2 linked regions of the Homo sapiens genome follow. The protein of the gene in region 1 purifies or fractionates together with the protein of each later gene. This does not show direct contact. Each region holds a gene or a part of one and is shown on either strand. Other genes may lie near its edges.

Region 1 (3,825 bases):
ATATTAGTACTAAAATATTTTAAAGAGTTAACCCACATAAATTCCAGGTATGTTTTCAAGACTAATCAGAAATTTTAAGTTGGCATTTTAGAGCAGGAAAGACATTAATATTCAACAAGAGAAGAAAATCAACCTATACAAAGATCATGTCCAAAAATTAATTTATGCAGTTATAAAATATGTATAAAATTTGTCATTATCCCATTTTGAATAAAAAGAACATGTTTGTTATGTTTGTATTTCAAAGCTGCTAAATACAGCCCTCGTAGAGGTATGCCTGAAATGAGTATAAGGCATTTATCATTGTGAGAATATTTATCCCTAAAAAAAAGTCATACATAGAAATCAAATGTAACAGGCAAGGTGAAAAATAAACCATTATCCCTTCAAAAATCAAACTGCATTTTTGCTGACAAGATAAAAGACACTGAAATATGCACAAGGTGGCAGGCACTTATCAAGGCAGGCTTTCTTCAGTGACTAAGAAAAGGAAAACACACCAAAACTTCTCCCACTCTACCAATTCACATCACTCAGGTAGCACGTCTGTCTTCACAGACAGCTGGCAAACTCTTCAGAAGCAGACCCCTGTTACATGTTGAATTGTGTCCCTCAAAATGGTATGTTCAAGTCCTGACCGGTAGTACCAGTGAATGTGACCATATTTGAAAACAGGGTCTTGGCATACATAATTAACATGAGGTCATTAGGATGGGCCCTAATCCAATGACTGGTGTTCTTAAAAAGCAAGGAAAACTTGAGCACAGAGACACAGACGGCCATGTGAATAGATTGGAGTCATGCTGCCTCAAGCCAAGGAAACCCTGGGGTTCCTCCCCTAGAGGCTTTGGAGAGAGCAAGCCCTGCCTATACCTTGACTTCCAACTTGCAGGCTCCAGACTGCGTAAGAATAAATTTCTGTTGTTTTAAGCCACCCAGTTTGTGGTACTTAGTTATGACAGCCCTTGAAAACTCATACCCCCTCTCAGTCATCATGTTGTAGAGATGTGAGAAGCAGGGAAGAAGACAGGGTGCAAGTAGACATCATTTTTAGACTGATTTGGGCTGTTAGTTATCGCTTAAAGGATAAACAGAGCTGCGGATTCAGAAATTTCCATAAAGGTTCATTCTTCTTTGGTGTCTAATGTCTAACAAAGGATGTCCCTTTCCAAATCCCATGGAGAAAAGTACCTCATTTCCCAGAGAAATGCTCCTGCCCCCTAGTGAAAAAGGAAGATATTAAAATAACATATAAACTCATCACAAAGACTAAAACAAGAAAGGCTGCTAACCTGACGTAAGTAATACAGGGTTCTAGATAAGAAAAAAAATTACCTGCCTCTAGGCATAAGCTTATGGAAGAATTAAAATGTTTCACCCAGTCAAAGCTTCAAGCTGCACTTATATTCCCGGGCAAGGTAGAAAAACATGCATTGAAAATAGAGGCCTCCAATACATCCAGGAGTCTAGTAGGTTGATTTGTTTAAATCAGTGTAGTCAATTCAGCTTTTGGAGGACTAGAAGCACCAGCATAAAACTAACAATGGTATTATTAACGTATACTAATTAAACATAAGTTGTACTCCTTGGCATTTACGAGTAAAAATGTGCTAATTCAAAATCCTAAGCCCGACAATGTAGCAAAAATAATATCTTTTGACCAAAAATATTTTTGTAACCCATGACAAGGATAATTTAGATCAAAAACTAACAAAATATATTATCAAAAAGTAGCAAAATTGAATTGTGTAGAAGAAAAGAACTAAAACCCCAGGACACCTTAGGCATGTCGGAAAATTCTAACATATTTCAATACAACTGCCATCATCTACTAAATTTAGAAAGTTACTGCAGTTTCACAAGTATGGATTATTCACAAATATTTTTTTTCTCTGATTTAATGAGCCCTGCTGGGTAAAGCTGTCATGTCTAACTCAGGTTAATTTAGGGAAACCTGCTTTTTCCAGATGGCATCAAGGAGAGCAGACAGTTTATATGAGACGCTAAACTCAAAGTCATACAGTATTTATCTTAATGTGGAATGCAAGAGCTGTTAGCCTTTGAGCCCACTTTGATCTGTTTCTTAAACCAGGCTTCTACTGTGGAATTCTCCACACTGCTCCTAAAATGTCATGTTCCTCTGTCAGCAGCCAACCAGTGTTACCCAGAAAGTCTGCACCAGAGTCAGCTGCAAACCTAGCTCAACCTCCTTCCCTTCGCTTTAGACAAAAAAAAATAATAGCACATCCTATGTCTCTTACTGCAGCAAACACATGGCTAATTGAGTGCCCAAAAGCTTACCAGTGTTCCAGATTAGTTTAAGAAATTCTGCACTATAAATCTCTGGACATTTTGTATCTCCAGCCAGGAACTATTCACCTGCCAAAATGCTGATTAATTACGTGACTATGTGTCATATTTCTAGTCTTCTTATTTGTTGATAGGCAGCCGTGCCTCAAGTTTCTTTTACATGCTCAAAGCCAATGTCTTGGAAAGTACAATTTGGCATGAATTTCTTGGTCTTAGTAAATAAAGAGACTGCCTATCTCCAAATAGTAGCACAGACTAACCCAGAGATGTTACTAAGGGAGAATAACCCAGCATTAACAACCAGAGCAATGCTGTTAAAATACACCCCACATTAAAACTTGCAACCAAGAAAATCTGGTGGGGAAACTCAACATCTCCATCTTAACCTAGTATTCTCAATCCAGCTTGAATACTGAAATCATCTAAGGCAGTCTTTTAAAATGCTGATGCCAGATTCCACCCCCCACCATCTTAATCTCAATCACTGGAGAGTGATTCAGGCACTGGGATGTTTCAAAAGCTCTCCAAGGTATTTCTAATGGTCAACTATAGTTGAGAACCACAGATCCATAGCACAGTCAGCAAACTTGCTCTATAAAGGGCCCTATCATAAATGTTTCAGGCTTTGTGGGCCACTGAGTCTCTGTCACAGCTTCTTAATTCTGCTGCTATGGCACAAAAGCAGCCACACACATATGAAAATGAATTAGTATGGCTGTGTTCCAATATAGCTTTATTTATGAACACTGGAATTTGAATTTTTATAACTTTTCTATGTCACAAAATATTATTCTTCTTTTGACTTTTTTTTTCAATCATTTCAAAATGTAAAAACCATTCTTAGCTTACAAACCATTCAAAAACAAGTGGCAGGCCAGATTTGGCCCAGCTGTAGTTTACTGTCCTCTGATCTATACTGCAGATTGAATATACTCCTACTTAATTCTTTTTCAAAAACATTTGCTCAGTGACTCACTCAACCAGTCCTTGAAAAGATCCCCTTCAAAGCATGAATACCTTCAGATTCAAGTTGGTCCAGGCCATATGAGGCAGCTGTATTAACACGAGTAATAGATGGAACAACAGTTCTTCTCTCAGAGGATGCCTCCAAAGCAGGAAGTGCAGGGGAAATGCTGGGTTCCCCCACCATTATTCCAGGAGGTGTCACTGGAGATCCCAGAACTGGTGTGAACTCCTCATTTGGCCCTGTGACTGTGTCCATTTGTTCTGCCAAACACAACAGACAGGACTTGACCCACAAGATAATCATTATGGCAAATGTAAGCATGTGCTTTCACTTTTTAGGCAAGAAATGATTAAACCAATATCATACAATACAGCAAGTTTGGCACTTGGGTCAGCTCTCCTTTCCCATATTGTATTAATCCAACTCCCCAAAGCAAAGACTTTCAGGAAAATGTATTGTCTTACAGGAAAATGTATTATCTCTAATCAGAACTTTGTTTTTAAATTTTAATCTCCCATTTATTCTATTGGCAATATTATGGATGTTGT
Region 2 (3,825 bases), on another chromosome or scaffold:
TTTTTAAGGGACATTCATGTAAATTTCCCTTAGTCAGTTGTTCCCATTCCACTTTATTCCTCCTCAGTTTTTTTTTTGTGTGTGTGTGTTAACTGAACCTTTTGATGTTAAAAGAAAACTTTAATCTCTTTTTATAATATTTTGTTTCCTGGTTAATATTGTTTCTTTACCTCCAAGATCTCACCTTGCAGCATAACATTGGGCTTGGTTAACTTTTAGTTATGCTCATTATATAACCATTTGGTTTAGACTTTTTGTGTGACAAATATTTCCTCCAAGATTCATGTTTACATTACTTTTAGTAGCTACAGATAGTATTCTGTCAAAACTGTGTTTTTTAAACCAATTTTAGTTTTCACTTAAAAGTTTTTTTTCTCTTTGCAATTTCAAGTATTTTTTTGCTAACAAAAATTATTTAAGTGTATTTATGAGCAATTTTTTTTCAGAAGTAGAAGTGGCTGCATGTTTCTGATTCTGTGAATTTAGTACAGTCTAAAAACATCAATGAATGGGATACTTGATGTCTTTGAAAAGAAATTAAATAACATTACGGAAGATAAGATAAAGTAATCATCTAACAAAATAAGCTGTTACCACTAAAGTTACTTAACCATTAGTAATAAACAGTATCTAATCTAGCAAATATTTATCATGACACAAATGCTTGAGCAAATGTTCTCAGATTGACTTCTTATACCAAACCAAGTGTGTGTTGTGCTTATAGATGGGAGACTATCTTGAAAAATGTTTCTGCAGTCCAGATTTCAGAAACAAATGTACTAAAAATTTTAAAACAAATTTGTATTGTTGGAAATGGGAATTTCTAAATCAGAAGTTTGGTAGCAAGAGAGATTTTTCATGGAAATATGAGCTTTAGATTTGAAGTCAAGAGATTCTGGCTCTAGTTCCAACTCTGTAATTGTTAACACTGTTATTGAGCAATTAAGTGAACCTTCCGGCACTAAGCATTCACTTCTATAAAGTAGATTATGTGACAATATCTTTTAAGGAGTCTCCTAGTACTAATATCTTTTGATGAGTTTAAAATGTTAAGCAACATTCAAACAGATTTATGTTTAACCTGCATTTAGTTTGCAAAATCCTTCTGAGAGTGAACAATTCCCTGTTTCATTGGATACTTTTGGCAACATTGCTAAAACTGAAATAAAGTTAAGAAGCAAAGCAGTTATCTAATTGTGAGAATAAGTGTTTAGATTTGTATTGCCCAATAAGTTCTTTGAGAGATGTCAATAAAGGTACCCTTAAGGCATAAAGTTTCATTAATTCCTGTCAGCGATGCCTTTGTTCTGGTTATAATCTGAAAAGGGATGGCAAATTCATGTTCCTTCTTCTATTGATGTTTCAGCTTTAGAGGTTGCAATTTATTGACTCAGAAGGTCAAAACTTCATGGTCATCATACTAATGGTTAATGGAAAGAAAGTGTTTGTAGATTGAAATATGCTGTTCTCTGAGAGTTGTACATATGGGCATTGCATAATTGACAGCAACAAAGTATTTAATTTTGGAACTATATGAAACTTTCATTCAGCCCTTCTATTTTTTTTTTTAAATGATGATGAAGCTGAAGCCTAGAGAGACTAAGTGATTAGACTTAGGTTTTACAGGTCTCCAGAATGCCAGTAGAATGTCAAGATAACATATGACGTCTGCTTTCAGTGATAAAAAAAGCTTTCAGTTTATCTACACGTTGACCATTAAAGGTATATTCAGGGTCCACATCTGCTTTTAAGTAGCTTAACACTTGCATTAAAATGGTCCTTATGCTTATAAAGTGAATATGACACTTAAATTCAATTAAAGTAAGTACCCTCAGTAGCTGATATTCTCTGGTATTTGGATGGCAATAGGGTCTATATTTTAGTTAGTAAGTCTTTAGGGAATAGCTCTTAAGGAGAACATTTTAATATTTGTAAATTGGTTGGGAAGAGGAGTGAAGAAACAAAATGATTTAGAGATGAAAGGAAGAACCATTTCTTTTGGTGGGAATATAGATGATGAGATCTTATTTTAACTCTACTCTGTTGCTGTTTTGCAATATTGGAAAGGTGGCCTAACTTTTTGATGTCTCTGTATTCATTGTAGACCTGGAAAAGTAGTGTCCCAACCCCTTGACATTTTGGAAGAATTGCCTGGAAAGCAAAAGGTGTTTGGTGTTAAAGATATCTGTAATCATTTGAATTGGCATGGCAAATGATTACCATTTACCCCCAAATAAAAATTTGGAACTTTGACTTTGGCCATAGCCACTTACTTTTGCATTTGGATTAAGTCCTAGGGAATGGAAAACAAAGTGGACTTTATTTATTTTTAATTTAAAATTTTACTGCTGCAAATATTATAAAGAACAGCTTTGTTTATTTTTATACTATTGGGCCTGCATGGTGAATGCAAGCTATGAAAAAGTTTGGGTAAGTTGGGTAGTTGTTTTATACTTTGTCTCCTTTCTGTGCATTGTCAGTGTTAGTCACAGTGTTAGTGTGCATTGTCAGTGTTCTCCCACATTCCTCTCTCTAATGAGCTAGGCTTTTTGTTACAATGATGAAGATAGTTTACTTAGAACCTCTCAGTCTTATGCAGTTGTCACTTAGGCTCCAGAGGTCTCGGTATGTTTACTTATTGAGAATTACTCATGGCCATTGTTTAGAAGGTATTGAACGAGGTTCTTGCAGTCTGTGCTGGGTACAGAATTTAATTAAAGCTGTTATTCAAGACACTTTACTAGGGCTCTTGTGTTTAATCCACAGATTCAAAATGATCAGTGCCAGGAGATGGACACCACCACTGACAAGTGGGTAAAACTTACAGACAATGGAGAATGGGGCTCTCATTCTGTAAGTCTCTTTGTATTTCCTTCTTCTTTGCCAATTTTTCCTTCTTCTTTTTTTCCCCAACCTTTTCTTCTTTCCCAACTTCCCCTTCCTTTCATAACGTTTTAAGAAAAGTATATTTTAAGAAAAAATATCAAAATTAACTATTAATTTAGATGATTTCTGGTTACGGAAAAAATTACCCCTAGCTTCATGGACTCAGCTTTCAATTTTCAGGGTCTTTTTCCTACCTTTTTCTTTCTTCTTAGTTTCCTTTTCCTTCCCCTTCCCATTGTAGTCTAATTTTCCTCCCTTTCAAAGGGGCATCCATGAGAAAGAAGGCTGTTCAAAACTAATATACAAAACATTTGAGTTTCTAAGTTTACAAATGTGCCTGTCATATGTGATCGAATTAGTGGCTCTTTTCATTGGAAGGATCTGTGAATTCCTTTTATCTTTCTCTGCGCTGTGCCCAACAAGTGATATTCAAGCTTGTTTTGTTGGGTACTGTGCTGTCTCCATTTGTTGGACAGCTCTGTTTATCACAAAATATCTCTTTGGAGCCTCAACCTGCCTCCTACCTATTTGCCACACATTGGTTAAAATTCTACCTTCTCTGGTTACATGAAGTAAAGTAACTGCCTGCTTCCTTACAGGACAGCTCCTTAAATGCTTGAAGGCAATTACCAGGTAACAATTCAGTGAATCTGTTATTATTTGAGGCACCATCTCTTTGGAGTGAGAGAGACATGGATTTAATATCTAACTCCGGTTTATAGTTGTGTTTCTTTAGGCAATTTGCTTAATCTCTTTGTGTCTGATGTTTTCATTTGCAAAATAGGAAAAATCTTGCATGATTAAATCAGAAGATATGTGGGAAGGGCCTAATATAGTGCCTACAATATAGATCAAGCTCTATTTCAATAAGTGACCATCAATCCTTGTCTTTGTGGTTGTAGCAGGTACCTCATCCTTGGGTGATTAATACAACATACC

The links.
Region 2: the proteins of ARMH4 (region 1) and ELAPOR2 purify together in Homo sapiens (affinity purification with mass spectrometry; one large-scale study listed by BioGRID and IntAct). This does not show direct contact.

The regions. Positions count from the first base shown.
Region 1 is NC_000014.9:58,128,185-58,132,009, forward strand, and holds part of ARMH4 (armadillo-like helical domain-containing protein 4 isoform 1 precursor), read right to left. Parts: intron 3,538-3,825; coding exon 3,328-3,537; intron 1-3,327. UniProt on the Homo sapiens protein: May modulate immune response and may play a role in inflammation. Down-modulates STAT3 signaling throught direct interaction with IL6ST, resulting in the inhibition of phosphorylation of STAT3 at 'Tyr-705'.
Region 2 is NC_000007.14:86,941,046-86,944,870, reverse strand, and holds part of ELAPOR2 (endosome/lysosome-associated apoptosis and autophagy regulator family member 2 isoform 1 precursor), read left to right. Parts: intron 1-2,766; coding exon 2,767-2,853; intron 2,854-3,485; exon of another isoform or gene 3,486-3,498; coding exon of another isoform or gene 3,499-3,519; intron 3,520-3,825. UniProt on the Homo sapiens protein: Functions as a regulator of the BMP signaling pathway and may be involved in epidermal differentiation.